Linked DNA regions of Homo sapiens: all the other regions are linked to region 3. Evidence: fine-mapped expression QTL. A gene starts in region 3. Each other region holds a variant in brackets. All regions are shown on one strand. Distances are between the middles of the regions.

Region 1 (8,107 bases), 36 kb after region 3:
ACATTTGTTTCTCATACTGGGTCTCCAGGTAAGCTTATGTATGAAGAGGAGGCTCTTCAGTGAACAATAGCTTGGAAACCTTTGCCCTAGAGGGAGAAACCTTCAAGCTGCCAGCCACCAAATAAGCCCACAAGGCTCACTTCCATTGTCTTCTCCTCTGCAATGCCCTTTGTCCCTACCAGCCTGAGGCAAACATCAGTCCCTATTGTCCCCTTCGGAGGTTAACCCTACCTCCAAAACCTCTTAAGAGTATCCTTTCAAAGCATGTTGGCAGAGTGGCCTGCTGAGTGTCCGATTTCTCAGTGTGTGGGTTGGGCCTGTTGTTTTGTATGCATAGCTTGGGGTGTTGATTTTTGTTCATTTGTTGGTTGGTGTGTTTTTCTGCCAAAAAAAAACTGTTAATCCACCCTACAAGAAAGGAAGGTTAGGGAAAGGGGGGACACAGTTGGAAAAAGGAATCACATTTTTCCCTTTCCTAAATAGACCCCAGACCCACATCTGCCTCTAATATTGGCAAAAGTATAAATGAAGGCAGTTGGTCAGCACCCCACCTTCTCTTCCCCTCTCAGGTCCACCAGCAGGCACTGAACAAACACTTCAGCCCGCATGCCCAAACTCTGTGTAAAGGCCGCTAATAAGAGCCACCCCTTAGCTATCCCTGAGGCCTCAGTGACCTCACCACAGACGGGACAGATGGGAAGAGGTTCACACAGCCCTGGAAGAGGCTGGGACATTTGAGCAGGGAATTCTGGGCCCTGGGTTACGAACCATGCACCAAAAGGAGGACTGGCCCTGGGTGGCACACAGACAAGGCCCATGAACTTCTTGTCCTATGGGGCGGGGCCAGCCCCACCAAGACCAGGGCAGGGCACCTAAAACCACAGCCCAGGGTTGCACCCTGAGAGAATAAAAGAGACTACCGGGGCAGAGCGGATCCTAGAAGGGAGAGGCACTATGGGGCCAGCCTCTTTCTGAAGCCCCACCCAGAGAAGCACCCTTTGCTGGAAAAGAAAACAGCAGAAGCCAAGGTAAGGGGCCATCACCCAGCAAAAGCATCCCGTGTCAGAGAGGGAAAGAGCAGCCACAGCCATGAAGCTGGCCAGTGCATGGCTTCCTTAGACAGAAGTCTCAGGGAGCCCCATTCAGGCCTGCATAAGCCCCCGGGATTCCAGCAAGACATGATGGAGGAGGTGGGCTCCCAGCAGTGGACCCTGGACTCCTGCTAGTCATAGCTGAGGACAGCGGGCCTGGGGCAGGGTTGGGAGAGCTGTGGCTGCTTACAGACTTATTCCAGGAAAGCAGAAATGTGCTGTACTTTGCCTCGTTGCACTCACCTACTTTAGGCCCCTTCCCAGTTCTGCCACCCCATTCTCACTCTTACATACACAGAGCTCTTGAGTTTACTGTCTTTCATTTTAATGCCTAACATTTAAAAAAAACTTTTTATCATGGAGAAATTCAGACAAATGCAAAAGTAGGTTAAATAGCACAATGAACCCTCATGTACCCAGCACCAAGGTTCAGCAACCATCAATTAATTTATAGTCAATCTTGTTTTAACCAAAAACCCTACTTATTTCTCCCCTCTGATATTATTTTGAGGCAAATCCCAAATATTTGGTTTGGGATTGGTTTCGTCAATTAATATTTTGAGCTATACCTCAGAAACTGATTCCTTTAAATATATATATAACCTCAGTGCCTTCACCACATCTAGATAACACAAATTCCTAACATTATCAAGTATCTGGTCAGTGATCTCATTTCCAAGAGTCTCCTAAATACCACTTTTACCATAAAACTTAAAGTATAATAATAATAAAATTTAAAAAAAAATACCACTTTTACCTGCCTCGGGAGGGGCGCTGGCTGAAGCACAATCAAAAAGCAAGGGGTGATCGGGCATGGTGGCTCACGCCTCTAATCCCAGCACTTTGGGAGGCTGAGGAGGGCAGATTGCTTGAGGTCAGTAGTTCAAGACCAGCTTGGGCAACATGGTGAAACCTCGTCTCTACTAAAAATATGGAAATTAGCTGGGTGTGGTGGTGGGTGCCTGTAGTCCCAGCTACTCAGGAGGCTGAGGCAGGAGAATCACTTGAACCCGGGAGGTGGAGGTTGCAGTGAGCCGAGATCACACCACTGCACTCCAGCCTGGATGACAGAGCGAGACTCCATCTCAACAAAAAAAGAAAGGGGCATGAAGTAAGACAGGAAAACATGTGACCCTGCTTGTGGCCAGGACCAGGCTGGTGGCAAAGTTTCAAATGGGGGACAAAAGGGTGAGAGATGGCTGGGCACAGTGGCTCATGCCTGTAATCCCAATACTTTGGGAGACCGAGGCAGGCCGATCACAAGGTCAGGAGTTTGAGACCAGCCTGGCCAACATGGTGAAACCCCATCTCTACTAAAAATACAAAAATTAACTGGCAGGTGCCTGTAATCCCAGCTACTTGGGAGGCTGAGGCAGGAGAATCGTTTGAACCCGGGAGGCAAAGGTTGCAATAAGCAGAGATCATGCCTTTGCACTCCAGCCTGGGTAACAGGGCAAGACTCCGTCTCCAAAAAAAAAAAAAAAAAAAAAAAAAGGAAAGAAAAGGAAAAGAGAAGAAAAAGAGAGATGCCCAGAGATAACCGGGGCCAGGGGCAAGTGGGGAGCAGAGAGGGACAAAATTCTCTCCCACTCTGGAAAGGTGAGGTTCAGATGAGGAGGGACTGTCAGAGAACAGCCAAATGACTTTTTCTTCCTGAGAGTTGGGTATTCTTTTTATCATCAGCGAGCAGAAGTGCTCAACTTGGCAGGTTCTGAGGATGAGATTAAATTTCCTCATGAGGCAATCATTGTGATGGTGGCAGGGGAGAGGGGGCAGGAAAGGAAGTTAGATTTGATTAGGGAATAACTGTCAAGGCCTAGCTCTGCCCCTTAGGAAAGCGAGATTCAAGGAGGAAAGGGTAGGATTTTGCCCTCACACCAACCTAGCCTTAAGGCCTGCTGCCACCAGTTACTAGCTGTGTGGGCTCGCAAGCTGCTTAACCTTTTTGAGCCTGTTTCCTCATCTCTACAATTATGAAACAGGAAAAATAAAAGGCCCCTAGAGAATTAGATTCAGGAAGTTGTGGAAAGTGCCCAGTTAGTCAGAATGGGAAGGAGCCTGCTTGTTGGTTCCTTCTCTACCTTCCGTCTTCTCCCTTGACATCTAGATCCAATCCCTGTACAGTTGAGGACACCAGCCTCTGCAGGGATCCCTGAAGACAGATTCTCAGTCATTGTCAACCACACCACCTGGTCCAGGTAGCTTTCCCACTGTTGGGAACTCCAGGCTTTCTCCTCCACTCTAGAAAGCCTGGGTGAATGCAAGTGAGGCTGCAGGGAATGTTGTCTGAGACTGGGATGGGATGGGATGGGATGGGATGGGATGGGATGGGATGGGATAGCTAAGGACAACCGTGGTGGCAGGCCACTTGAGAAGACAGGAGAGACCACAGGTCTGAGACTTCAGAGTAATCAGATAGCCCTGGAAGCTCTGAGAAGGTGGGGGCATTGGCCCAGCACTTCAGGGGGCTATAACCCATGCAGTCACACAGGCTCCATGAGTAGAAGGGCCCTGAACTTGGTTTAACTGCTGTCTACTGTTGTCATCTTGAAATTCTTAAAATTTTTGAACAAGGGCCCCATGTGTTTATTTTATTTATTTGTTTGTTTGTTTTTTACAGACAATAAAAAGTATGTTGTTTACGGACAGGGTTTCACTCTGTCACCCAGGTGAGAGTGCAGTGATGCAATCATAGCTCACTGCAACCTCAACCTTTTGGGCTCAAGCCATCCTCCCACCCCAGCCTCCCTAGTAGCTGGGGCTACAGGCACGCACCACCATGTCTGGCTAATTTTTTTTTAATTTTTGGCAGAGACAGGGTCTGGCTATGTTGCCCAGGCTGGTCTCAAACTCATGGTCTCAAGTGGTCTTCCTGAGTTGCCTCTCAAAGTGCTGGGATTATAGATGTGAGTCACTGTGCCTGGCCCCACATGTTTTTACACTGGGGCCTGAAAATCATGTTTCCAAAACTGCCCAGCACCAACCTGCCAGCTCTGGGAATTCCAGCTCAGCATCCCTGAGCACCCCAGGTGAAGAAGTGGAGAAAGGAGGGGGTTTCTAGAGCAAGTGTTTACAAGGAGACAGAAAATTGAGGGGCCAGCAAGAAAGTGGTTCAAGTGATCAACCGAGAAGGCATCTAGGATGGGTGGAGTCAGCAGGGGACTGATGTATCAGAGGAAAAGGAAAGA[G/A]TCTGGGATCTGGGGGTCTTACACATAGACACCACTAGTTGGAGCAGAGGTAGAAGTGTGATTGCACCAGAAGGACAGGGAGCTGGCTAGTCTGGGGCCACAAAAACCAGAGTTTAGGGGAAGATCAGGCAAGCTGTGGCTGTTGATCATGGGACCAGGCTGAGGATGGGAACCGGTGGGAGGATGGGAGCAGTGTCCAAGCAGCAAGTGGAGCACAGTCCCTGATATTCAGAAATTTAGGCAGGCAGGCAGCACCAGAGAAGTTGGCACTAAGGACAAGGGTCCCAGCCACTGTGCAGGGATTCAAGGACAAGACTGGAGTGGGGTGTGCCCAAGCCCTAGAGGGACTCGGGCCTGGACAGGCTCTCAGAACCGAGGCCAGAGCACCAGTGTCCCCATGCCTCCCCCAGAAAAACCCATAACAAGAGCGGCACACAAGAAAAGGGCCAGGTGGGCTGTCTGGGAAGGCCAGCATCTCCTTTGCCACGGCTCCTCCCATGGGTGCCCATTGTTACTCTGTCCATCATTACCGTTTGGCACAACCATCCCCCACAACACCTTTTTCACCCACAACACTTTTTTCTCCCTTGATAGCCTGGAGGCTTCTGAAAGGGAGACACTTTCTCCCCTTTACCTGCTCATCCCCAACACTAAGCAAGGTGTTTGGCACATAGTAAGTGCTTAATAAATGGTGTCTGGCTGGCTGAGCGCGGGCCAGCTGGAACACGGATGGTAGCCCTGCTGGACATTGAGAGGGAGGCAGGGGTGCATAAAAGGGGCATCTGCCAGCTCTGGTATAGACCGCCTGGGTTCTAACCATGCCTCTGCTACTGCTAAATGGACCATCTCGGCCAAGTTATCCAACCTCTGCCCCTATGTTTCCTCATTATAAAATGGAAATTTTTATTTTGTATTATCTTATGTACCTTTGAGTAAATGTGTACATAGCAGTTAGAATAGTGCTGGACAGCACTTTAGGAGGCGGGGGCGGGAGGATCACTAGGTCAGGTGATCCAGACCATCCTGGCCAACACGGTGAAACCCCGTCTCTACTAAAAATACAAAAAATTAGCCGGCCTTCGTCATGGGCTCCTGTAATCCCAGCTACTCGAGAGGCTGAGGCAGGAGAATCGCTTGAACCCGGGAGGCGGGGGTTGCTGTCAACCCAGATCGCGCCATTGCACTCCAGCCTGGGCGACAGAACGAGACTCCGTCTCAAAAAAAAAAAAAAGTACTGGACGTGCCACGCACTTGCTAACACTATCATTAATATGACAGGTAAATAACATCTTTGTGTGGCGTGTTGCAGCTGTCACAGCCGCCAGCAGACAGCCGACTCCCTCACCAGTAAACACCGCGGCTTAGGTGTTGCCCACCGGGCACCGGAAGGCGGCCCCCTTCTCGCTCTCCAGTGAATGTTCCTAAAACAACTGCGGGGTCCAAGAGCACAGGGAGAACAGCGCCCCTGACGCAGGCTGCGCACCCGCCCGGAGGAGGCAGTGCGTCAGTCCTGAGGTCACCGCCACCCGCTCCCGGGGGACGGCCGCCTGGGCAGGTGAGGAGGCGACCACCTCCCAGACGCCTGCCGGAGCTGCGGCGCACCGACTCCCTGCTTCTCCGAGCGGCGAGCGCCACCTGGAGGCTCCCTCGAGATCTGCATTTAGGAGGCGACGGGTCCTTTCATCGTTTTATTCATTAAACATTTATCGAGGCCTGGAGCGATGGTTCAAGCCTGTAATCCCAGCACTTTGGGAGACCGAGACGGGCGGATCACTTGAGGTCAGGAGTTGGAGACCAGCCTGGCCAACATGGCGAAACCCCATCTCTACTAAAAATACAAAAATTAGCCGGGCACGGTGGCGCACACCTGTAATCCCAGCTACTCATGATGAGGCTGAGGCACAAGAATCGCTTGAACCCGAGAGGCGGAAGTTGCAGTGAGCGGAGATGGAGCCACTGTGTGTTAGGCTCTGGCGACGTGGGGAGAAATAAAGATAATGTCTTGTTTCCCAGGGCATTAATAGCGTGATGGGGAAGACAGGCCATCAACAATGTGCAACACTAAGGGCTAGGAAAGAGGTGGATACAAAGGAGGGAATAAGGAATGTGGTCATTCCTTAAGGTGTTTATTGGTGCCAGGTACTGTTCAAGGCACCAAAAAGAATGGAACCAAACAGAGATCCTGCTCCCAAAGAGCTCATAGTGGAAGGACAGCCAGACAAGCTTAGAATTACGGGACAGGCCTAAGAAGGAGCCAGACTGGGGACCAGAGGCGTCCGAAGGGAAGTCCAGGAAGTACCGCAGGAAAACGTGATATATATTAAATCTTAAAGAATGGGCAGGATTTTGCCAGGCTTAGTGACAAGATATCTTCCGTAAAATCGTGGAACTGAAAAGAAAGGATATAGGTTGAAGAAGGGCTAGTTCTGTGTCTGAAATAGAAGGAACATGAAAGAGAAGTGCTGGGACATGGGGCAAAAAAGGGAGTTTGGGGCCAGATCGTGAAAGCCTTGGTTTAACAGGTGAAAAGTTCAAATTTGATCCAGGTAGCTGGCAGAGTCAGAGGTTCTAAAGCAGAGACCTGCTCTATAGAAAGCTCACCATGAAGTACAGCAGTGATGGTGGATGAAGATACCAACAGCTCAACCTCCTATGTGCCAGGGAAATGCTGAGCGCTTAGCACCTGATATTTATCTTAATTCTCTAAATGGGCCTATGGGGTAAGCATATTATTATCCCAATTTTATTGGAATACTTCCCTGGTAGGGCCCCTAAACAGGTAGCCATCAAATGCCTGATAAATTCCAGCTAGCTTTAAATTCTAGTCGCTACAGAGCAGAGCCCTTCCATCGCACTGAGCTGAAGGAGCCAGATGGGCATTACAGACAAGACCCACTCAGTAGGTGAAATCAACAGAGCCTAATGACTATCTAGATCTGCAAGATGAAGAATAGGAAAGAGCTAAAGACAAGATTATGATGAAAAGTTTGATTTTGAAATAATACATTTTTAAGAGCTGAGAAAAACCGTATCCATCATCCAGAACAACCGCCTATTCTACCCACACTCCCAGCACCACATCAGTACACGTGTGCCTGTACTCACCATTCTGCCTTGCCTCCTGCTGGCATGGACGAGTGCTGCGTGTTCCTAAGTGCCACCTTCCGCTGTGCACTCGATCCCATCCTCGCGCCCACGCAAGAACATCGCTTCATCAATTGGTCCTTCTCTCACATATGAAATTTTTGGTCTTTCTACTGAGTCATTCCCATAAATATACATGTGTACTACAATTTCTCTCATCGTAAAAAATAATAAAAATATTTCCTTGACCTCAAATCTCATACCCCTGCCATTCAATTACACCAATCCTCTCCAAAAGAGTTATTTATACTCAAACTCCACTTTCTCTCCTCTCGTTCTTTCTTGAACCCACTTCAGTTTCATTCTCACAACTTCACCACAATTACTCTTCAGGTCCACATTGCAAATCCAACGGTCAGTTGAGAGTCCTCATCTTAGATGACCTGTCAGCAGACTTCCACACAGTTGAGCCTATTCACTCAAGTGCCTAAGGCTATGCACATTCTTCTCTACTGACACTCACTTCCTCGTGATCCTGCCTGGCCTCACGTTTACAACTCCGAATATATTCTTTCCAGCCTGAACTCTCCTCTGAACTTCAGACCCATACATCCCCAACTGCTGACTCAATATCTGCACGTGGATGCCTAATGCGTTCAAACGTAGCATGTCCAAAAGCAAATTCCTAATCCTCCCCCTTCAAACCTTTTGCTCCCATTTGCTCCCACAGCCTTTTCCATCTCA
Region 2 (8,107 bases), 23 kb before region 3:
GGATACTTGTTCTGAATTACAGACCTTCTCACTTTTACAAACTATGTCATGAAATCACTGTATTTCATGTCACTCATGATTATGAGGGACATTAAGAGAAAACAAAAACCCAATTTAGCTTTCGTTTTTAACATGCGCCATATAGTAACAATTTAAAGAGGAGGAATCTAGAAATTATCCCTAAAATTTTCATCCAGCATTCACCAGATTAGTATTTTATTATTTCTAAACACAGAAGGCACAAAGTTTCTTTTTAGCAGGTAAGACAAATAAGAAATACTGTCACACAATGTTTTGAAATACAGTTTCACAGATGCTTATTCTGAAATGACACATTTCTTTAAAATGCATTGACAGTCTCTAGTGAATTCACTATCTTTACTCAGGTAATTTTAAAAGCTAAATGTTGATCTCTGTTTTGTGACACTGGTGTGACATCCCTGAGATGAGAGCAGATAATTTCTACAGCTGTCACTGCCCTGCAGCGCCCTAGTCAGTCTCTATTTATCTTTTCTAATAAGGTAGAGATGCGCTCATTATCGGCTCATCAAGAAACATCACAAGCTGACCAGCACAGACATCTTTTTAAAAGCATGTCTTTCTCCTTTTGCTATCCTGCACTCTATTAGGGAGTGGGGAGGGCAAGGGACATGTTGTCTGTCTTTGGCTGTCCAGCTCTCCAGCTGTCTCCAAAGAGCCCCTTCATGGTAACATTAATAATCTCAGTGAGTATTTCTCAGGCCGAGAAACCTGGGATTGTCAGCACATAAAATGAACCTTTTTCTCAGAAACATACTCTCATTAGCCAAGCTCAGTGTCTGATGTACATGTCTGGTGTTTCCCTTATGTGTCTTTGAAATAGCCCTCATTACTTATTTAGAGCTTTTGTTACCATAGGCAACCCACACTCAGAACAGGAAAGTCTGGAAGGCTCAGTATGCATTACTGAAGGCCAAGATTATAGGTAAGAAAAGCTACGATAGCAATGTCTAATGTTGACTGAACATGATGTGCCAAGCACTGTGCTGAGAGTTTTAGTAGTGTTATCTCATGGGACCCCCACAATAACCTCATGAAATTGTGATGGGTATTATTAAGCAGGCTTAGAAATGCTCATATGAGCATTCTACACAGTCATACAGTTAAGGGTTGCAAAGATGAGATGCTGTGGCTTAGGCTTCTGGATGTCCACTAAAATCTGTCACTTGACCATAATAATAAAGTTGTACCTGGGCACACGGCCTCCTGGCCAGATACTGTATTTCTTAGCTGTTTTTGAAGTAGGGATTGGCCAGTTAACTAAGTGTGGTCAATGGGATTTGAACTAAAATAATGTGTGCAACTTCTGGGTCATTGCCAACTTAAAAACAAGCACCTTGTCCTACTAACACTCTCCTCCCTCTTCGTATGAACTAGAACTAGACTTGGAGACCTCCCACCTTTGATCTAGAGTTGCTCTTTTAAGTACAGTAACCACTAGCCACCTGCAGCTATTTACATTTAAATTAATTAAAATCAATATTAAAATTTTAGTTCAATTTTTATTTTGAACTAATCACATTGGTTCAGTCACACTAGCCACATTTCAACTGCTCAATAGCCAGATGTAGCTGCTGACTGTCATATTATACACCATGGATGTAGAACATTTCCATCATCACAGAAAATTCTATTGGACAGTGCTATAGTAAGGAAAGACAAAGCAGTAAGATGAAAAGAGCCTGGGTCCCAGAATAACCCCATGGAACTGAGCTGCCCTGCTAGTCTAGATCAGTTGAAGTGTTACAAGGAAGAGAAATAAACTTCTACTTTATTTAAGCCAGTATGTTCTAGGCATATTTGTTACAACAAATTAATCTTTACACTAATACAGAAAACCGTGCCTGTCATTGCCAGGTAATTCAGCACAACAGCCAGTGAGTGGCAGTGCTCTCTGTCTTGTGTTGAGACTGGACATTTGTGTTTCAATTATTTTGGAACTGGTCCACGATGCCCCACACCCTCAATGAGGCCAGATCATCTCCTCCTGATTCTACAGCTTTTCCTTTCTCTTTCTTCCTCCCCCAACTCATCTGAAACATCGAAATATTTATAGAATTTTATAAATATGGGCATAATGCAGTCTGCAGTCTCCCAAGTATGAGTGACCAAAATGCCTCAATTCCTTCCTATATCACTTCCTGTGGGAAATTTTCTTTTAACATATATGTTTTCTGGTAGTATAGAATTTTCTAAGAACATATTCCTTGCCCGTATCCCTTGCTTGTCCGTGGCTTGGCGAGTCAGCAATCTACAAGTGGAATCACTCACGAGGACTGAAATATTCCAAGTAAATATGGCCACCACATCCTCTCATCTCCCCACAGTGAAGCAACAAGGATTGAAAAATCATAGCCAGAAATGGCCCCATTCATTCACAAAGAAAAATCAATGTCACAGTGAATGCAAATAGTCCAACTTCCCATAACAAGCACCTTCTCTCCCTACAGACAGAGTTACGTGGGAAGCCAAGTCAGCATCAAACTGTTGCTTGGAAAAGGTGGGCTCAGAACAAAGGAAGTTGGATATATGATTGCAGTGTTTAAAGGTACCTGAATGGGACAGGCTGACAGGTCTGTCTTGCCAATGGGACCATAGCACTATACACAGAGGCACTGACTAAGGCTCTAGTGACCCCATGTAGTGTAGAACAGGCCCTAGCAACATTTGTCTCTGGGACTCCTTCCTCACTTTCATCACTGACCAGTGTCCCCTACTACTGATGCCTTCTTTTAGATATATTTGATCAGGTCAAGTTGAGTCTGAGGCTGAATCGCTTTATTTTAAGGTTCTACTCTCAAGGGACAATCTTCCTACCTCTTGTTCCAAATTCTTGGGGAGAGCCCACCACAGCTTGCATACTAGAGCATATTATTCGGAGCACAAGGCTCTTGATTATGGTATTCTGAGCAGATGCTCACACATTTCCTTTGCACTACAAGAAATTTTTCAAGCAGGGACAATACATTTCTGAGGTTCAGATAACTTGTAGTGAATGATACATGAGAACTCTGTGTATTAAACTCCGTATGTGGCTTGAAAAAAGTCTGGGAGGCTTCTGGGCCAGAATCCGTTGAAAAGTGTAATTGTCATTTCTCAGAAAACTCAAGGGAAATTTCTAAAATCATCACAGCCTAACCCTGATTTTGAAATCGCCCTTGCAAAGATTGTAACAGTGAGACAAATATGGCATGGTTGACTCCATCTTGCCTGTAGCCTCACAGGCTCTCTCCCAAGTAGCTGGGATTACAGGTGAGTGCCACCATGCCTGGCTAATTTTTGTATTTTTAGTAGAAATGGGGTTTCACCATGTTGCCCAGGCTGGTCTCGAACTCCTGGCCTCAAGTGATCCTCCTGCCTCAGCCTCCCAAAGTGCTGGGATTATAGGTTCATGCCACTGTGCCCAGCCCATGTATAACTCTTTTAGTGGATATATGTTTTCATGTTCCTTAAGTAAGTGCCTAAGGCAATTGCTAGTTTATAGGATAGGTGATGTTTAGTTTTATTGCAGTAACATTTCAAATGTTGTCTTTAACACATGAAAACATGTACATCACATCCTTGGACAAGCTTAGGTGAGGATGGACAAGACACACAAAGGTATTTACACTTACATGCACACACTCTCTAAAGAGGACATGTCATTAGCATGATTAATTATTGGCCACTATCCAGTTCTGTATGTTTGTAACTCTCCATGGAGAAATGGAGATCTGGGACAATGGGTGGATTTTGTTTTTAGGAAGTCTGACTTCAGAGGGAATTAAATTGAAGGCCTCAAGTGATTTGCTAACCGGGGAGAGAAATCAAGGAGTAGGTATGGCCAGCAGGCTGCCACCAATGAAGGATTGAAGAGGTGGTCCAATATTGCCTTGTGGTAAGCCCTCACAGCACCACCCACACAGTCAGTTCTACTCGTGTCTGGAAACCTCATTTTGACAGCTTTCAGGGATCTTAGAGACCATCGCAGTGTAGCTTGCTGAAAATAAGCCCTGGAATCACATTGGCTGGATCCAAATCCCAGCTTTAACCCTAATTCCTATGTGACCTTAGGTCTAAGCCTCAGTTTTCTCATTTGTACAATGGAGATAATAGTACCTTCTGCACAGAGCTGTCAGGAAACTTAAATGAGATCTTGCACCTCGAGTGCTTAACACAGGGCCCAAAACAATGGATGCTCCAAGTACACCCTCTATCGTTATCATGTCTACATCCTCGTTTTAGAGAAACAGTGGACCAAGAAAGCAGAGTGTCCTGCCAGTGCTAAACAGCTAGGAAAGAGCAGAGTGAGAGTTAACTTAGGTCTGTTGACTCCAAATCCATGCCCCTTCTGCCTCAGCATGCTGCCTTCTTCAATGAGGCTAGGGGCTCAAAAAGACAACTTTCTCCAACCTATCTGGGCCCAATGCAGTCTGTGCAGAAAACCTAGAAGACATTTGTGGCTGAATGCAGGTCATTCCTAGAGAATGAGGGGGGTGGAATCATGGAATTACAGTTCAGGCTAGGCTCCACCACTTAATTTCTCACTCTCTTTATTACCTATACTATATTATCACTGAAATTTTTATTCTGAACCATTTAAGAGGAAGTTGCACTTGTGAGCATTCAAGCTCACTCTTTTAATATCTCTGAGCCTACTTCCTCTTCTGTGATGTGGGAATAATAATGCATCATGAGAATGCCTGGCATATTGTAGCACTCTACAAGTGAGATCCTTGTTGCCTTTGGGGCTCTAACTCCTGTACTGGAACAGAGATCATTGTCCAAGAGGAGCTATCACCTCCCAGGTCCCAGAGAACACAGAGAAAAAAAAGTGTAA[C/A]CTGGCTTCCAGAAAATTGGGAGATTTTATCGCTCTTGGGAAACCAATAGGCAACACTGGGACAAGCAATCTCAGGGCCAGCTCAGAGATTTACTGTTTAGTCCCAGCCTAGTATCACAAAGTTTTTCCAATCTCCTCCTAGTTCTTCTGGTCCCTCCTCACAACACAACAATGTGCATCATATACTAAGCAATGCAGAAAAAAATACAGACAAAGGATTAAAAAAAATTGCACCACCTAGAAATAACCATCATTAAGTAAAAATCACTTTACACATACTTCCATGAGAGAAAGATGGGTAGAATGAGCAGACAGGTAAACAGAAATACTTACATAAAATAATACAACACCTGCTATTTTAATTACAAAATACTAAAGTTGCCTTTAGAAGAAAATTTAACAGAAGGAAAAGCTCCAAGTGAAAATGAACTTTATGCTGGACTTCGAATGTTTCTTTGGCATAAGAAAAATGATTTCTGAACACACTCCTTGAAGGTTAAGAGACTATAAAAATTTAAGAAATTCAAGCTATTTTTAAGGTCAGGCATGGTGGCTCATGCCTGTAATCCCAGCACTTCGGGAGGCCGAGGCGGGTGGATCACAAGTTCAAGAGATTGAGACCATTCTGGCCAACATGGTGAAACGCCGTCTCTAATAAAAATACAAAAATTAGCTGGGCATAGTGGTGTGTGCCCGTAATCCCAGCTACTCGGGAGGCTGAGGCAGGAGAATCGCTTAAACCCGGGAGGCAGAGGTTGCAGTGAGCTGAGATTGCGCCACTGCACTACAGCCTGGTGACAGAGCGAGACTCCGTCTCAAAAAAACAAAGAAAAAGAAAAAGAAAAAAAAGAAATTCAAGCTTTTTTTTAAACCATGTTTCCGTTTTAGAGAATATAAATTGACTGGCAATGAAAAGTGAGGTCTGCAACCTCCCCTTCATTTCTTTACGTATTAGTTAGCTTTTGGGCTCGTTTCATTGAGTTTATGATGTTACTATTCTGTAATTCAAACACTCAGGAGGAATTTTCTTCTGTACCTTGGACTATGCTTTCTTCTAGACTGGGCTCCTTGCCTTTGGACACTTTTTGGTTTTGCTCTTGCTTATTATATAGTTGTGCTATTTCTTTTCACTCTGCTCATGTTTGGGCAGTCTTTCCATTTTGCTGTGATATAATAATAACAATATTACCTGACACAACTATATGGCACTTAATATGTGCCAGGTGCTGTTCTAAGAGCTTTCCATATATTAACTCATTTAATCCTCACAAGAATCCTGAGGTATTATCACTATTCCCATTTTACAGATTAGAAAGTTTCAGCACAAAGAAATTAAGTGACTTGTTTAAATAACTTAATCTTTTTTTTTTTTTTTTTTTTTTTTTTTTTTTTGACACAGAGTCTCGCTCTGTCGCCCAGGCTGGAGTGCAGTGGCGCTATCTCGGCTCACTGCAAGCTCCGCCTCCTGGGTGCACGCCATTCTCCTGCCTCAGCCTCCTGAGTGGCTGGGACTACAGGCGCCCGCAACCACGCCCGGCTAATTTTTTGTATTTTTAGTAGAGACGGGGTTTCACCATATTGGCCAGGCTGGTCTCAATATCCCGACCTCGTGATCAGCCCGCCTCGGCCTCCCAAAGTGCTGGGATTACAGGTGTGAGCCACCGCGCCCGGCCGTAACTTAATCTCTTAATGGTGAAGTGGATATGACTCACAGAGTCTCCTTTCTCGAATGCCTCCTAAGTAGCAGATAAGAAACTAGGGATTCTGGCTCCGGCATCCATTTTCTTGGCCACTTTACTTTCCACTACACCTGAGGTCAATTTGTGCTCTCAACTGAGCTGCAGTTTGAGGGCGCTTCTATGTATTTCTATATACCTGACCTGAAGGTATGGTGAGTGGAGAGGGACGATTCAGCTTAGAAGGTGTGCCATCTTGGAGGTTTAACACACAGTACTAGGATTTACTCCGCCTACTTGGAGCTACATTCCATCCCCTTAGCTCTAGATGCATCCTCTAGCTTAGCCTATAGCCCTCACATCCACTGAAGAGTTCATCTCCATCTGCTTCACCCATTTCTCCCCAGGAACCCTTTCCACTTCTCCACAGTCAGAAAAGGGAAAAGCTACCAACCCTTTGGTTTAATTTCCTCCTGACTGAGAGTATAAAAACTCTCCAAGATTTGGGTGACTTATAGTTATGACTTCTGGCAGACGGGTTTAGAAACCTTTCTGTGTCATGCACTTCCTCTCAATTCTAGAATCTTCCATGTCATTCCTTATTTGCTTGTTAAAGTTTGTGGCACTGCAACGTGCCCCATTCCTTGACTGCTGGGGCAAAATATTTTGCTAATTTGTATGAACTTGGTGGGGGGGGGGCAGGGATTGCTCATTTATTAAATTAGGCATTAGAGAGACTGTGAGACATATCTACCTCACCATCCTGATCCAGATATGCATACAGCATACCATCCATTTTTCTTGAAGATTCCAAGTTAGCTAGATATTGTAGATCTGATCAGGGAAACTAGCTTCCTACAGGAAACGAAGGAAGAAGAAACACAAAACTTTAAACAGTATAAAAAATACAAGATGGTACAGAGAACATTCTGAGCTAATTAGGGGAAAAAAAGAAAAATGCTTTAAGTGTTAAGATGTCCAGAGATATGAAGCCTTGAATGAGGAATGTCAGATCCCTGATTCAGATACAATGAAGAAATCAGGAACACATTTTAAATTTCCTAGGTCGAGCGCAGTGGCTCATGTCTGTAATCCCAACACTTTGGGAGGCCAAGGCAGGTGGATCACTTGAGGTCAGGAGTTTGAGACCAGCCTGGCCAACATGGTGAAACCCTGTCTCTACCAAAAATATAAAAAATTAGCCGGGTGTGGTGGCACGTGCCTGTAATCCCAGGTACTTGGGAGGCTGAGGCAGGAGAATCACTTGAACCCAGGAGGCGGAGGTTGCAGTGAGCCGAGATCATCCCACTGCACTCCAGCCTGGGCGACAGAGCAAGACTCCATCTCAAAATAAATAAATAAATAAATAAATAGGACAGTTTTCTACTTTTTAGCATAATGTTCTCTGATTCTTTTTGAATATTAGTCCTTCACACTGTTAATATCAGATTTCAATAGCTTGCTTTTCCCCGTCTCCAAGCATGATCTTTACCACCAGGAAATTCTGCTTTAGTGCTCCCAGTCAGATATACTGGGAATGCCTGGTCTCTTTCTGATCCATTAGCCCGTGACT
Region 3 (8,107 bases):
AAGCACTATGCTGTGATAGAGGCTAGAGTGGAAAACTACATAAGACCACCCCACTTCTATTCCTAGTACCCTCCAGTTTATTTTCCCCAGGGCAGCAATGTTGTGCACTTAAAATACAAATCTGATCATATCACTCATGTCTTTGAAAAGCTGGTAATTAAAAATGAAGAGGTAAAGTAGGCTCCAAACATTTTTGACTGCAGAACTTACAGAAAGTCTGTCACAAGGAGTGCCTGCCTTAGGTAGGACTAACAAAAGTTAATTTTAAGAAAAATGAGTAGGTGGAAAGAGAGGCTGAAGAAAAATCTGCAAATTAAAAGAATGCTCAATAGTCTAGACATAGAGTTGGCCATGGTAGTCTATCTATCTAATAAGACATTTAAAAAATATCTATCAAAAGGACCAGGGGCCTAGGTTGACAGGGAGATGCAGAACAAAGGAGTAAAAAAGAGTGGAATAAATCAAGATATTTCTAAAGGTAATAAGGCTTGAAGGAGGTAATGAGAACACCCTGGGAGAATAAGGATACATGGCTTTTGCTAAGCTATTCAATCAAAATACATGTGTCGCTCAACAACAAGGATACATCCTGAGAAATGCATCACATCTTCAGGCGATTTCACCACTGTGTGAACACCATAGAGGGTACTTACACAAAGCTAGATGGTATAGCCTACTACACACTTAGTCTACAGGGTATACCTATTGTTGTCAGGTTACAAACCTGAACAGCATGTTACTGTACTGAATACTGTAGGCAACTGTAACATGAGGATAAGTGTATTTAAACAAATCTAAACATAGAAAAGGTAATGTATTTCATTAGGATGTTATGACCACTACCTCACTGGGCAAAAGGAATTTTTCAGCTCCATTATAATCTGATGGGACCACCCTCATGTGAGCAGTCCATGGCTGACCAAAAAGTTATTACGCAGCACATGACTACATACGTGTAGTGAAGAGTAAGCTGATCAGACTGAAGAATTAAGTAGCAGAAATCGCTCTGAGGCTAGGTAGCTAAAATTAGGTATTTCAAATATTTTCTTTTTTAATGACAAAATTTAGTTAGTACACAAGTTAATCCATGACTCCTAAAAATACAGACAAGTACAAGTCTTATTGCAGCAAAATAATCACTTCACACAGATTGTTGAAGAAAAAAGAACAAGCGGTGACCCTTTAAATGTTAACAATTGTTTCTGATCTGTAACATGATGAGGGGGGGCAAGCCTGACATTTAGGGATGGCGATCAAAGTAGGAATCGAACTTTCGAATTCATCTAACTCCACTGGGATCTTTATATTCCCTCCTATTTCTTTATGGTTAGCAATTTTCAGGTAGAAATTTTAATTCCCCAAGGGAGAAAACTGAACCTCACTAGGTTTAGCAAGTTACTTTTTTCTATCCTAATAGCAAGTGCGGAGAATTATCCCTACACAAACAAGAAGCAGGCATCCGTTTTATGAGATTTTGAATTTCACATCAACATGCAAAAGACAGGCGGAAATGATTGCCCACTGAGAGGGAACTCACCTTCCAGAAAAGCAAATTCATCCACAGCTTCTATTGCATTATCTGAAACACAAGGAAAAGAGACACCTGACTAACTTCAGCCATGCTGACCTCAGTCAGAAAACAGCACAATCTGCAGTGAAGGGCATGAGGCTTTGGGCAAATGAGGGCATTTATAAGATGCGTCCCTTGCTGCCTTGAGATCCATATCTACTCTACCAGCAACTCTTATATATATTAGCTGTCTCCCTAGAAGAGTTAAGAAAAGCATAGGCAAATACCATTCAACGCGGGGGTTGGGGGCCTCCTAAATTACCCCTAAATTATTTATTCGCTTTGCTCTTAAAGTTGTCAGAGAAGAACGTGGCAATAGACGCAGGGCGCATGAGAATACGGTATACGAAATCTTACCCAGGTGAGGGTTCCCAGCCAGACAAGAGTCAGAAATCAAATCCCCAGTTGCTAGGTGAAAAAGAAATATCTTTTTCTGGTGCAATTTGGCAGAAGGTATGAAGGGATCCAGTCCGCTACGGCAACCCCAGACACCTTCACACACTGCCCCGCCACCCCAAGCAGACAGCCTCTACAGGTAGGGCTTCCTGGCACTGTGGCCAACAGAAACCATCCTGGGGAGAGACGCTGTGGCACCTCTCAGATCAGAGTGACGTCTTCTCAACCTGCACAAGGGGAAACCAGCCCAGCCCTCCCTTGTCTGTCCCCAGACACTGCAGTGCCACTCTACCCAAGTCTCTCCTCTGAAGGGTTTTCCTTTTTCCCTGCTGAGCGCAACAGTAGGCATCTTTTGCAATGGTCTCCACAAACAGTTCCTGTGAAGTAAAAAAGCAAAGTTTTAGTAATGGGTTCTAACACACTGAGGAGGTGAGGGCTCCGGTTTGTGGGTGGGGGCAGAAAGGGAGAAGAAAGGCTCGGGGCAAGAAAATGTTCTGGAAGCTAAGATTGTCCTGGACTTCATGAAGATCCATTCCGCTACCCTCTTCCCAGTATTCTCCCTCATTCACTAAAGACTCCTACAAGTTCTGTACGAGGCCCTGGAGATACAAATTAAAGTCACTCACTATCCAGGTCCTCAACAAGAGGGAGGAGTGTTAACAAAACTCGCACAGGTCCCCGGCCCCTTTCCTCCGCCTTCCGGGTCCACGCCCACATCTCAAAACCCGGGCCACGCCGCCCTAAGCCCCGCCCGCGGGAGGCCCCGAGGCCCCGCCCCACACTCCACCTCCCCCACTCCCGCATGCCCTCGCGCTGCAGGCGCACCGCGGCTCGTGCCAGAATGAAGATGGCTTCCTGTCCCGCTAGCGTCACGTCGGGATCTGCCTTCACCAAGGCCTTCACTCGCGCCAGAGGCAACCTCGAGAGACGAGCCCCAGGCACACTCGTTGGGGCCTGGGGCTGCGAGGCCGCTGCCTCCCCAGCAGGTCCCTCCTCCTCTCGGGGCGTCCCGCTTCCTGCCGCCGCCGCCGCCGCCATCCCGGCCTTGAGCGTGCTGCGCGCGGCCGCCGACTGTGCGCGCGCATGCGGCGCAGGCCCTTTCCCGCGCGGGCTGGAGGCCACACCCTGTGTAGGCGCGCGGCTCCGCCCCTACGCGGCAGTGCGCTGCCAGGAAACCGGGTGGGCGGGGGTCGGGCTCCGGCTCTTCCCACGCGCCTAGCCACCCGTGGGCTGTCGTGCACTTGGTTGACGCTACCGGCGACCCTCTGGCCCCGACGGGCCTGTGGAGCCCAGGCACCTCCCATTGGTGCCTGTGCCTGGCTGGTGAGGGGAGAAATCTAGACCAGGCTCGCAAGAGAGTCTCCGTCAAAACAGAGTGTGCATATTCCAAGGCTAACGAGGGCACGTGTCCGAGGGAGGCCCGGCCCTGGAGGGCCCAGCATCGTGGAAGAGGGTGCCAAGGAGGCAGCGAAATCTGGACCAAATTCAAGGATAACCAGTTATAGATGCTCTTGAAGGAGGGGTAGGGCTTTTGGCAGGCAGAAATGAAGAAATTCAGCCCAGCCAGAGGAAACAAGAAAAAGTCATGGAGGCTAGAAAAGATGAAATTGTGGTGGTGAGGCATCCACGTTTGTTCAAAAAGAGGTTGCATCACAGCTTTGGTTCTCAAATTTGACCTCAAGATCCCTTTACGGTCTTAAAGATTGTTAAAGAGCCCAGGGAGCTTTTGTTTCTGTCAGTTATATCAATACTTACTATATTAGAATTAAAGTTTTAAAATATTGATTTAAAATTACTAATGCGTTACCAGCTAACAAACAACATTTTTATGACAAGTAATTTTTTTTAAATCTAGTAAGAAAAGTCTCTAATGTCTGATTTCATGTGAGAACTGGATTCTCTAGCTGCTTCTGTTGCTAACGTTAGCACTTCTCAGGTAGCTCTTAAAAAACTACTACATCTTGAGAGAATGTGAATGAAAAAGGCAACCTCATAGTAGTATTAAGAAAATAATTTTGGCCTCATGGACTCCTGAAAAGGGTCTCCAGAAAATTCCCACCCCCATGAATCCCCACACCACACTTGGAGGTCTGATAGCGTAGAGGAACAGTTAATATTTAAAATAGGTTTAATCTAAGTCAATCATAATAATAGTGAACACCTTTAAACATTTACTATGTGCATGATTCAAAGTGTTTTAGATTTATGTAAATCATAACTTCTGTAATTTTCACAATACCCTATTGAGGTAAATATTATAACCTTCTTTTTCAAACCTTATTTGAAAAAATTGAGGTGCAGAGTGGTTACTGAGTCGCATACACAGGGCAGAATGTGGTGAAGCCAAGATGAAGCTGAATTAAACACATCTGAAATCACTCAGTTCCAAAATTATGTAGTAAACTCTGACTGGTGTAGGAGTGGAAAGGTGTGAAACCTTTCTTTACCCATTTTAAGGGTCACAGCTGACACTCCTATAACACACACAAAAAGCCTAACAAGTCTAATCAAAGTTTTACATGACATGAGAGTCCAAAAATGCAGACCATGAGACCTAGAGGAAACTATTTTTATGCTTAGGTTATATGAAGAAGGGATCGCTGTGTAGAAATGTGATTAGAGGCCTGGTACGGTGGGTCACACTTGTAATCCCAACACTTTGGGAAGCCAAGGCAGGAGGACCGCCTGAGCCCAGGAGTTTGAGACCAGCCTGGGCAACAGATGGAGACCCCATTTCTACACACACACACACACACACACACACACACACACACACACACACAAATTAGCTGGGTATTGTGATCCTATAGTCCTAGCTACTTGGGAGGCTGAGGTGGGAGAGTTGCTTGAGCCCAGGAGTTCAAGGTTACAGTGAGCAATGATTGCACCACTGCACTCCAGCCTGGGCGACAGAGAGAGACCCTGTGTCTTAAAAAGAAAAAGAAATGGGATTGGACAAAAAGGGAATGATAATAGTCTAATGGTAATAGACTGAATGGGGAAACCCAGCAAGGCCTGTCTGTTCATATTCTTCTTGGCCTCCCTGTGTAGCATTCCTTCTGGTATTAGGGCAGGACCCTTCTGGAATGAGGGTCTTCAAGGGAGAAGGCAGAAAATAACCTTTCTAGGTTTTACGACTTGCTTGGAGGAAGGAGAATTCTAGTTTCTATGACCTGCGTTGGGAAAGAGGAATTCTGGTTTCCATGACTCACTGCGAAGAGTGGTGATGTTACAGTGGGTAGCTAGTCAGACACGAACAGGGCAGGATAGGGCCCCCACGCTCCACCAGGAATGTCAGAAGATCATCAGGTGATGGTCAGACAGTGGTCACACCGCCTCTCTAAAATAATAATTGCTCATAGCCAGCGCCAGGGAAAGGCAGTTTCCCTATAGATAGAAAAACCCTGAAACTGATGATCAGGAGCTTCCTGATGAGATCTCAGGAGTTGGGCGAGCGGGCTCACGCATGCACACTAAGAGGCAAAATGGTGGAATTTAACTGATATATGACCTTCTGGGGGCATTCTACTGAAAAAGGGAAGAACGCCTCAGGTGAGCATGCTTACAACTTCAATAAATACACTGCACTTGCTCCCCTCCCCAGCGCTAGCAGGCTACTGTGCATTTCGACAACCCACCCCAAGGGAAGAATCAGGGTAGAAGGGATGCAAGACCCCAGAAGTATGCCAACACATAAAAACCCAAGTCAAAAGGTCAAACCTTGCACTTGTCCTTCAAGTCACCCACTTGGGCCTCTTCTCAGTGTACTTTCCTTCCTTTCGTTCTTGCTCTAAAGCTTTTTAAGAAATTTTCACTCCTGCTTTAAAACTTGCCTCAGTCTCTTCTTTTGCCTTATGCCCCTCAGTCGACATCTTCTGAGGAGACAAGAATCGAGGTTGCTGCAATTTGCTGCCAGTAACTGTAATAACTTCTACTGCTTACAGTGGAAAACAGGACAGGAGAAGTTCAGAAAGACCTTGCTTCTGAGGCCTTTCCAATTTTCTTCAGTTCAAAGTACTCAGCATTCCAAAGTACCATACTTTGGGGTATCATGTAATGAGCCCCAACCCTGAATTAGCACAGAGACACTCCACTATAGCAGAATAAGAGTCTTGGCCCAGAATTAAAATCTGCAGAAGAGGATATGAGTTGCTGAAAATTGAACCAGAGCAGCCATTAGGGCCTCAGTCCTGGGTTCTTTTCAGATTACATTTATGGACACTCTCACTCATGGAAAGCTCCACACAAAATTCATAAAAGCATGACCAGATTCTTGTGTCACAGTGCACAAGAACACCTCACAAGAGCTATACTCCAGCAATCGCAAAGTAGCTAAGTACTAAATTGACCTAAATTCTGAATTAACATAAGACAGTTGACAATGGTGGGGGTGTTACTGGACCCCACCACTTACCCAAAGTTAGCCTTTGGGTCAGGGGTTTCCTTGCTAGAGTCCTTTCGTGGTCACCAGAAAAATGTTACAGGAAAGGGGTTCTGATCCAGACCCCAAGCGAGAGTTCTTGAATCTCACACAAGAAAGAATTCAGGGCAAGTCCATAAAGTAAAGTGAAAGCAAGTTTATTAGGAAAGTAAAGGAATAAAAGAATGGTTGCTCCATTGGCTGGGCAGCCCTGAGGGCTGCTGGTTGCCCATTTTTGTGGTTATTTCTTGATTATCTGCTAAACAAGGGGTGGATTATTCATGTCTCCCCTTTTAAGACCATATAGGATAACTTCCTGATGTTGCCCTGGCATTTGTAAACTGTCATGGTGCTTGTGGGAGTGTAGCAGTGAGGACGACCAGAGGTCACTCTCCTGGCCATCTTGGTTTTGGTGGTAAGTTTTAGCTGGCTTCTTTACTGCAAACTGTTTTATCAGCAAGGTCTTTATGACCTGTATTTCGTGCCAACCTCCTATCTCATCCGCTGACTTAGAATGCCCTAACCATCTTGGAATGCAGCCCAGTAGGTCTCAGCCTCATTTTGCCCAGCTCCTATTCAAGATGGAGTTGCTCTGGTTCACACACCTTTAACGGGCAGGAGGAGTTAAGAGTTCTTGAAAGGGCTGAGTCAACTTGGCTTTCAGAGGATTCTCATTTCAACCCCCTTTTCTTCCCAATTTTGTCTCATTCATATGTTCCCTGCCTTTCCTCCTTTTCTCCTTTTTTGTTCCCCTTCGTGTTCTTTTTTTTTTCTTTTCTTTTCTTTTCCTCATCACTTGAATGTCTCACCACTTGGTGCAGTCCTTCTCTCCCTGGTTTGACTATGACTAACCAAGAGTTTATGGAGACCAGACAGGACTTCCTGACTATAAGTATTGAACAGCACTAAGGTGTGTTAGAAAGGGAAATCACGTTTCACAGTTTTTGAGTTTCAGTGGAAAAAAGGCAGAAGAAACAGGAAGACGAAGGTTGAAAAGCTCAAAAAGCCACACACGCACACACGGTTCGCATTCCAGTCCAAATAGAATGAAGGCTAAAAATATCTTTAAAAGGCTACGTGATGAAAATTAATGCAAAAAAAACATGATGTGTGTTAAGTGAAGTTTGGCCTAAAGCTGTCTCTTTACATAGTTTAAGTTTGGCCTAAAGGTTTCTTCATATGTAGAGAAATGCAAGGTAACTTGATGTGAAAACGGTCACTTACTCTTGTAAGAAATAGCCAAGTTTCAGCCAATTACAGGCAGCCAGCTGCTCAAACCAGGTTCAAACCAGGTTCAAATAAGGCAAACATCAAGCTGTAACCGTTCCAGCTATTTCTGTACCTCACTTCCATTTTCTGGACATCATTTTCCTTGTTATCCTACCATGCGGCAGGCCTAAAATCACACTGAATCTATTCTGGTTCTGGGGGCTGCCTGATTCGAGAATCATTTTTTGCTCAGTTAAACTCTGTAAAATTTAACTTGTCTAAAGTTTTCTTTTAACTTGTGAAGTATTTTATCTAATAAGCTAAAGATTAAAGACAGCTTGCCATCTACCATACTGGAGTAAGTGTCCTATCCAGGAGATAAGTTAGTGGAGGAACCAGTATCACTTCATTTCTGAATTTTTTTAAAAAAAAATCATATATGTGTTGTATGTACACGTGTGTATTGTTAAAAGATAAACCTAGGCACATTAAAATTTTAAAGAGTTGATTTG
Region 4 (8,107 bases), 64 kb after region 3:
GACTAAAACCATGAAGCCCTTTATGCCTTTAACCAAGGTCTCCAAAACGGGAGTGAAAAGCTGCAACATTTCCAAGATCCAGACTACTCCCAACGACAACTTAAAAAAAGGAAAGTTTCACCAGTTGCAAATGGGGTGCAACTCACACCTCCATCTGGACATATTCTCTAGGGTCCCAACCTCTCAGCTGGTCACCTGCATCAAAGACCCAACAACACATGTGACCCAACGGATGGAAAATAGAAGCAGGAAACCTGATGCTGTTCATGAGGGAAGAAAGGATTACAAATGACTGGATACCTCCAAAAGTCAAGAGTCATAGAAATGTAAATTCAAGATAAGTAATTTAAACTCTCATAAATGCTTTTTTTTCCCCCTACTGAGTCAAAGGACTTTTATTTCCAAAGAACTGGTTCCCTGACCAGGAATTGAACCTGGACTAGAGCACTGAAAACACTGAATTCTAACCACTAGACCACAGGCTAGAGTGCGTTGCTTATAAAATCCAAAGCAGACAGTGTGAGCATTTGAAGGATATTAACTTTGTTTTAAACCTAATATTTTAAACCTAATATTAGGTTTAAAACAAAGTTTTTCTTTTATTCTTGTCAAATAAGTCTCTGAGGCTATATTTCTTTTGTGTCTTTTCATGGGTACTAAGAAGACAGTCATGGGAACCCAGGACTTGACAAACTGGCAAAACAGTTGTTTAAATACGGCTGATTTATTTATCCCATAAGTGACTCAAACCAATAAGCCTTCTTTATGGAAAGTCCCAAAGGTAACTTTCTAGATTTACAATAACATGGGGCATTTTTTAAATGGGTGCAAAAAATGCAGCCCCCATGATAAAAATATACCATGGTCACTAAACCTAAGGCAAGTCTGTACAAATGCTTTTCTCCCCCACTAACCTGAATTTGGAAAGGAAACAGAGACAGTGATTTTTACCATCTGCTCTATTGGATTCCATAGACAGACACCTGGGAATCTGACTGGTGAGAAATTCTTACCCTTTTTGCCAGTTTGTCAGGTCCTAGATTCCCTTGACTGTGGTTTCCAGAAGAGCAGACTAGATGTGGTTTATCCTGCTCACAGCCTCAAATCTGCAGAAGCAAAGAGAGAAACCTTCCCCCTCCACCCTCTGAAGGTTTTCTGAAGATGAACTGACAAAAGGCAGATTAATAGGATTGTTCTCCTATTGCAGTTTTATTTTGTGTACAAATTTATTTTAACATACATAACATGGAAGAATCACAGAATGATTACCCAATAATGTAGTGAAGTCCAGATGCTTATAAACCCTTCTTCATAGGGGAAGGAGAGATAGGGGAAATGTGATGACTTTTTCAAGGGGCGGAAATGTTTATTAGAGAGAATGAATGTGCCAGGTAGACAGAAATTAACTTGTAAATGATTCTCTTTGGAATTTGAATGAAATGCTGGAATCCACAAACATTATCTTGTGAAAAAATCCATCCAGCTGTGGTTGCATTCCTCAGTCTTCCTTTCTGCAACAGATAATAAAATTTCAGAGAGAGGATAGAGGACAATTGTGTTCTTCTAGGTGGGTCCGGTCCTTAAGAGATTTCAGGGAAAGGACAGAAGGCAGTTGTGTTCTCCTTGTGAGGAGGGGGTTCAGTCTTTACACAGATCAGGGAATATCAGAGAAAAGCCTTATCCTTTGCTTTGGGAGAAACAGGGGGTTGAGGGTGGGGCAGGAGTATATAAAGACCTTGAGGTTGCCTCTTTATTCAGCATGTCAAAGGACCATTATTTTGGAATATCGTTTTCTGAGTCCCATTAAAGGACATGGCTTTCTCCTGTGGTGAGGAATCCCACAGAGCAGGTGGGAGTTGGGCAGGGAGGCAGCCCAAGCGAAGCCATGAGCATGGGGAATCCAGGGCTTGGAGGGCATTCTAGTGCAAATACCTGCGTTAAATTATACACTAAAAAAAGTGTGTTTATCCATCCTTCCATTGCTACAAAGAACTGCCTGAGATTGGGTAATTTATAAGAAAAGAGGTTTAATTGACTAATCGTTCTGCAAGATGCACAGGAAGCATGGCTGGGGAGGCCTCAGGAAACTTACAATCATGGCAGAAGGTAAGTGGAAGCATGCACATCTTCACATGGCCAACAAGAGGAAGAGAGAGAAGGGGGAGGTGCTATATAGTTTCAAACAACCAGATCTCCTAAGAACTGTATCATGAGAACAGCAAGGGGGAAGTCCGTCCCCATGATTCAATCACCTCCCCCCTCACCAGACCCCTCCTCCAACACTGTGAATTATGAGATATGTGACATGAGATATGGGTAGGGAGAGAGAGCCAAACCATCTCACAAAGTATCTTCTGAATGTTTTGCCAGTATTATGGTCTGTGGAGAATGTGTCTATGTCCACTTTGAGCCCCCAGTGGGAAATGGGAGTGCAGATCTTCCCTGAGGCTGTGAAGTGGGGGCAGCAGTGGCCTAGGGAGGGTAGGTGGCACCAAAACTGCACTGAGTAGCAGCCTGGCTAAGGCTGGTGAACACCACCAAGCTGAACTGCAGCATGCAGACTCCCAGAGGGGTGAGTCATTTGAGGGAGAGCTGCTGAGAAAGGGGGCTGAGGCCTCTACCAGAATTCAGCAAGGCAGAGGAGGCACTCAGGGAAACCCATTACAACTCTTATGTCATATATCGTAATTTTTAACAAGTATTTTTTTTAACAAAAACAGGATCACAATACACTGTTCTGAAATATTCTTTGGCATGAAGCAGCATACTGGCAATGTTTTCTATATTACTAAATGGAGAATATTTAGTAATAACCCTGCTCAATAATATTCTATAAAACCACATAGTGGTTTTATAAGTCGCATGCCGGTTACTTTCCTAATTGCGCCATATCACAGGAGGCTCCATTTCCCAGGCTCCCTGTGCCAACACACTTCCTGCTAGGTTCAACCAATGGAAACACTGCAGAAAATGAGTGGGCGGGAGGAAGGCAGAGAATTTCTTCATCTCCCACCCCATTCCACAGTCCCAGTACTTGCCCCCTTACCCCAGCTTTGGGACTCGGATCCAGCCAGTGGGATTGAAGCTACTTTTCTTGATGTTGCTAATCCCTGGGTTGCTTCTCTGTACTGCTTGGCTTCTCAGCATTGCCGTCACCCTATGCAACCAAGTCACAGTATTAAAATGTTTACAATGACTGGAATGGATTGTTTTCCTGACTGTACCCTGATAAAGGGTGAGTGGGTCTATTATATAGAGACGGTTTCTCTCTTTAGCTATTATAAGCCATATGATAGTCAATATCCTTAAAGTTAAATCTTAGTCCTCAACTATATGTATTTCCTTAGCACAAATTTCTAGAAAATTACACAAAACCTGCTGTGAGGCATATTGCCTGTTTTCCCCACATAAGGGCTATACCAATCATACTTCCACCAACAGTGTAGGAGAATGCTCCCATAATCTCACCAGTTTGATATCAGAAAAAATAGGGTCTAATTTTAAACTTTCCCTCACCCATTGGCTATCTCCATTATCCTCTTAGCCATGGTCATCTTCTTCCCTCGGTTATTGTCAAACAGGGCCATGTGAATGTTAATGGGTATCACTAGGGACTTTTGATGAATTTACTCCCCAGACCTGTGTTCTGCTTACTGGGGAGAAGGAAAAGCTTGGTAGGGAGAGGACAGAGGCAAGTGCTTTTTGGATGTTCACGAGAGCTATATATCCTGAATATGAATCACATTTGCCAACCAAGACCAGCCAGAGGCCCTCAGGGTGGTGCTAATTTCAGCCAAGCTATTTAAACAGTAGACCGCAGGACTAGCCATAGCTCTTCAGTGGCTTGAAATCTAAGGGGTCCAAGGCAGTCCAGGAAAAGCTGCCTTCTAATTCCACTGGGACTGAGTTTCTGGAAAAGCCACATGCCTCTCAAACACACACACTCAAAATCAAGACACCCATAAATTACTCATCGGGCTGGCCAGGAAGTACTGATACGACC[G/T]GAAGATGACTACTCTCTTAAAAACACTCATGAATCACATTTGATTATTTTGGAAAATGTTAAAATTTATTAATAATAGTTAACATCACATAGTTAATTAAACTAGTTATGTATTGTACATAATGACAACATCTTCACTAGACTGAGTGCTCAAGGATTTGAGATGATTCGCTATTCATCACACCCCGAAGATTGAGATCCACTGTATTTACACAAAGCAAAGCCATGTCAGCAAGGGACTGTCAACCTGATTCTGAGAACATAAACATTCAAAATTTATTTTCCAGTGTTCCTTTTTGGAAACCAACAACACATCTTTAATACCTACACACACACACATCTCTACCTTTAAAAAAAAAAAAAAAAGTGTAACTTCACAGATAGTACCTAATCTTCAAGCTTAAAATTTAAGTTAAAATTAATCTCTATTTTGTGGGCACCCTTTAGTGAACTAAAATCTACATGAAACCTTTTGGCTTTTGTGTAGCAGGAAATACCCACGTTTTGGGTCAATTAGTGCAGATGGGAGCAGCAGAGGAGCTACACCAGACAGCAAAGCAAGACTAGAGCAAACGAGAAGGACCAGCCCCTAGCCCCTCTGTGCTCCCGGGAGGACCTGGGCTGTTTTCACCTAATTACACCCAACTTTGCTTAAAAGTCGTATAATCAGACACTATTCTCAGCACAAGTTTGATAAATATACAAAAACCAGGTTCAATTTCATCGTGAGTTTCTTTCCATTCTGATCCTTGTATCCAATTCAATAGTTACATCCCTCTTTATCATATAGTATCCAGGTTTAATGTCTGTGCTTGTTTGTATTTTAGGACAGAGGCGGGCTTTCAGATTCAGAATCAACTGCACTCTTGAAAAGTAGGGATGGAAGTTTTTAAGCCACTCTCATCCCTCCCAATAGTTTGAAATAAATGTTGTGTATAAAAAAAAGAAAAACACAAAAACAGGTCAGCAGACCAATGCCAGCTCAGCCTAGGGAAGCACATGGACAATTCTTGTAAAACATTTAAAATACAAACCCAAGGTGAAACTTGCTGGGAGGGCTCAAATACACCAAAAATGTTGTCCCTGAGGTTTTATTTGGCTGTTTAATTGTTCTGTTTTGGTTTGTTGTTGAGGATTAGATACAATTTAAAAAAAGAAATTTTGGTGACTTCCTTTATCTTGTCAGAAAGCTTTAGAATACTACTGACTGCCCTAAGAATAAAGATTTCTAAGCCATGAGTCCATTTGAAACGATTCCTTTGGTTTCCTTTGCTTAACATCCCATGGAATACTGCCAAGAAAATCTCTAGATGGAGGAGCCAATTGCTGTGGTCTCTTCAGTCTATTGGCTCGGCCTCCATCTCTGTCCCTGCCTTCCACACACTTCCAAGACCACAGGGGAAGGAGGAGCCAGAAGCAACCGCTTTGCCATTCACTCACCCTGAAGAGGCTTCCCTTCTCTTCCCACAGGCGAATGAGGTATTTCTATGACTAGTCAGTATCTTCCCCTTCTGCCCTTTAACTACACTGAGGCCAATTCTGACAAGACTTGCACATCTATATACATAACAAATTAACATATAAATACATTACGTACAACTGACCATTCATTACATGTCAAGATGAAGAAGCAGATCTACTCAAGAACTAAATAAAATTTCAAATATAAATTAAAATGAAAATACAGTGATTCCACTTTTGCAGGAAAAATTTGTAAAACAAACTAAAAACTCCCCCTTCCCCAAAGGTCCATTGCTTGTGGATAACATGTGCGCCCCGCTGAGATGCGACAGCTGGCCCAACTGCAGGATGCGTCAACTCCTGGCTTTGGTTTCATTGCCCAGACTCAGGATTCCTTGATTCCAGGAATGGCAAATGCTGGAATCCACAGGGCAAATGCTTGTAGATGAGGTTAAAGAGGGGCTGCTGCGTGGATATCCATGGATTTTCCTCCACTGTCACCCCTCCACCCTCCCCACGTCTGCCTATAGGATAATCAGGCTCACATCCTCAGTGGAGACCTCCCAGATCTCTGACAGGAGAATCAGTAACAACATCAGTGCTGGGGGATGCACCCCACTTAGAAATGTCATGTTCAGGCTCCAAGGTGAAGCAACCGTATCTTCATTAGTGTCCCCATCCTGTAGAATTATACAGGGACATGGAATTTGGCAAGGGGGATTACTAAGGGAGATAATTTTCATGTTTTAGGAGAACCAATGGGAATGGTTATGATGCATGTGAACAAATCCTTATTTGGAACTCTATTTATCTTAATAGGGCCAAGCTCAGCCACCAAGCTCTACAATGAGATGCAGAGACAAAACCCAGTCCAGTGGGGTCCTCTCTGCCAAGCAAAAGCCAAGGGGTCTGTCTCTGACACAAGGGGATGACATCTTATAATTTAAAACAGGGAAGAAGGAGAGAAAGAGGAAGTCCCTTCCGATTTCAGGGGTTCTATCGCTGTCCAGCCTCACGGATGCGGCAGGCCACAGCAGTGATGAGCGCCGCCCCCTTCCCGCTGCCATCCTCTGACTGCAGGAAAGACACATCACATTTCGGAGCCAGGTCCTTCACTGTCTCATGCATGACTTTGGCAAAGCTGGAAAAGGTGGGAGGAAGACACAGGAAAAACCATCTTAGTCATGATTGGTTTGTATTTGCACTTAGAAATGAAAGCTAAGAAGCGATGCTGGAAACACAGAAATAATTAAGAAGAGGAGAAGGATGACAGCTATAATGTATTAAACATTTACTATATATTATTAAGTACCAGAAAACCGTGGCTTGGAGACACTAGTACTATGCCCAATTTCCACATCATATCAGCCATTAGGAGAGCTAGGATTCAATTCTGGGACAAACGTCTGAGATCCTGGCAAACTGTGTTCTTAAAACTAATAGTCAGTAAAAGAGAAGTTCAACAACCATGGAAGCCACAAGTGTGCCTAACAGAGGAGCACAACTCTGGAGGGGGAGACCAGGACCAGGACTCATGAATGTGATTTTCTATTTTCCTGGCGCATAGCCTCATATCAGAGCCACATGTGCTCCAAAATGTCATCGGAGGCAAAAGAAGCAGACTTACAGAGTCACTGCTAGGATATCACAGTGATCACAGATCCTTCCTATATGGACCAGAGAAAGAGAGAGTTGTGATCTGCCCCAATACAGCAGGGTCAGGACACCCTCCCCATCTACAAAGCTGAGGATGCCATGTCCCAGGGTTGGTGGCTGGGCTTCTGCCCCCTCCCAATCCTCATGAAACTATATGTACAATAACAGCCTGTGGCTGTTGCCTGTCAACCCCTGCTCTAGAATGTTGAAAAAAAATCTTGCTCCAGAGTTCTAGCATTACATTTGCCAGAATGTTCACAGTAGCACTGTTTGTAATGGTCAAAATCTAGAAGTAACCTAAATATCACCTCAACGATAGAAAAAACAACATACTCAAAGGTACGCTATACAGCTCTGAAAATTAATGAACTACCAACTGTATACTTCAATGCGGATGCGTCTCAAAACAAACACTGTGTGAGAAAAGCCAGCCACAGAAGAGATACCATGTGATTCTATTTGTGGCAAGTTCAAAAATAAGTAAAACTAAACAATATGGATGCATACCTACATATATGGGGGTGGAAAAGAAAAGCAAGGGACTGATTCAGCACAACACTTACCCCTGGCATGGGAGAATGATGACACAGTTGTGGAGGGGCTCGGAGGGGGCTTCCCACGGTGGGGGGTGAAACACAGGCCTACTTCTGATTATGAATCTTTAAACTATAATCCATGTATTATATACACTATTTGGAATGGCTGATAATTCACTATAAAGTAACAAAGGAAAGAGAGAAAGAAAAGGGAAAGAACAAAGACAGAAAGAAGGTAGGCAGGGGGGGCTGGGATCAGGCACTCACTGAGGATGTAGCTTGTAGAGGGTCCCATCCACACCCACTGTCACTTTGAGAGCGTCCAGCCCACGGTTTTCTCGTATCCTGTCCACCACAGCGGCCATGCCTGCGCCACAGAGCTGGGCTGCCCGCCGGGCCACCACAGTGCACACCTCCTTAACAATGATGCTGTCGTCACAGGTGCTCTCAA

Which allele goes with the higher level. Alleles are on the strand shown, and positions count from the first base shown. SD is a standard deviation of normalised expression in the study named. Not every link is listed here.
In carriers of allele T in region 4, the expression in aorta of the gene that starts at base 3,041 in region 3 tends to be lower than with G alone (small effect, 0.31 SD a copy in GTEx).

The links. PIP is the estimated chance that this variant, and not a neighbour inherited with it, causes the effect.
Region 1: its variant is fine-mapped to the expression of POLE4 in blood mononuclear cells (TOPMed, PIP 0.96).
Region 2: its variant is fine-mapped to the expression of POLE4 in whole blood (TOPMed, PIP 0.97).
Region 4: its variant is fine-mapped to the expression of POLE4 in aorta (GTEx, PIP above 0.99).

What each region holds. Positions count from the first base shown.
Region 1 is chr2:74,917,737-74,925,843 of GRCh38, reverse strand. The region is part of intron 1 of LINC01291 (long intergenic non-protein coding RNA 1291); the gene reads right to left. LOC105374809 (a long non-coding RNA gene) reads left to right here. Exons shown (of 5, transcript NR_187884.1): 4 at 570-1,028; 5 at 5,558-7,618. Among named protein-coding and RNA genes, the nearest start is that of LINC01291, 13 kb to the right of the region's middle. The variant G/A (reference allele first, on the strand shown) is at 4,280.
Region 2 is chr2:74,976,599-74,984,705 of GRCh38, reverse strand. No RefSeq gene overlaps it. Among named protein-coding and RNA genes, the nearest start is that of POLE4, 22 kb to the right of the region's middle. RefSeq lists an enhancer at 253-754. The variant C/A (reference allele first, on the strand shown) is at 4,859.
Region 3 is chr2:74,953,577-74,961,683 of GRCh38, reverse strand. It overlaps POLE4 (DNA polymerase epsilon 4, accessory subunit), which reads right to left and starts at 3,041. Exons shown (of 4, transcript NM_019896.4): 1 at 2,792-3,041; 2 at 2,259-2,343; 3 at 1,538-1,579. The coding sequence starts at 3,004. LOC105374809 (a long non-coding RNA gene) reads left to right here and starts at 2,805. Exons shown (of 5, transcript NR_187884.1): 1 at 2,805-2,952. RefSeq lists silencers at 2,593-2,832, 2,903-3,162 and enhancers at 2,454-2,954, 2,955-3,455.
Region 4 is chr2:74,889,295-74,897,401 of GRCh38, reverse strand. HK2 (hexokinase 2) reads right to left here. Exons shown (of 18, transcript NM_000189.5): 17 at 7,924-8,107; 18 at 4,043-6,605. The coding sequence ends at 6,461. Among named protein-coding and RNA genes, the nearest start is that of LINC01291, 16 kb to the left of the region's middle. The variant G/T (reference allele first, on the strand shown) is at 4,004.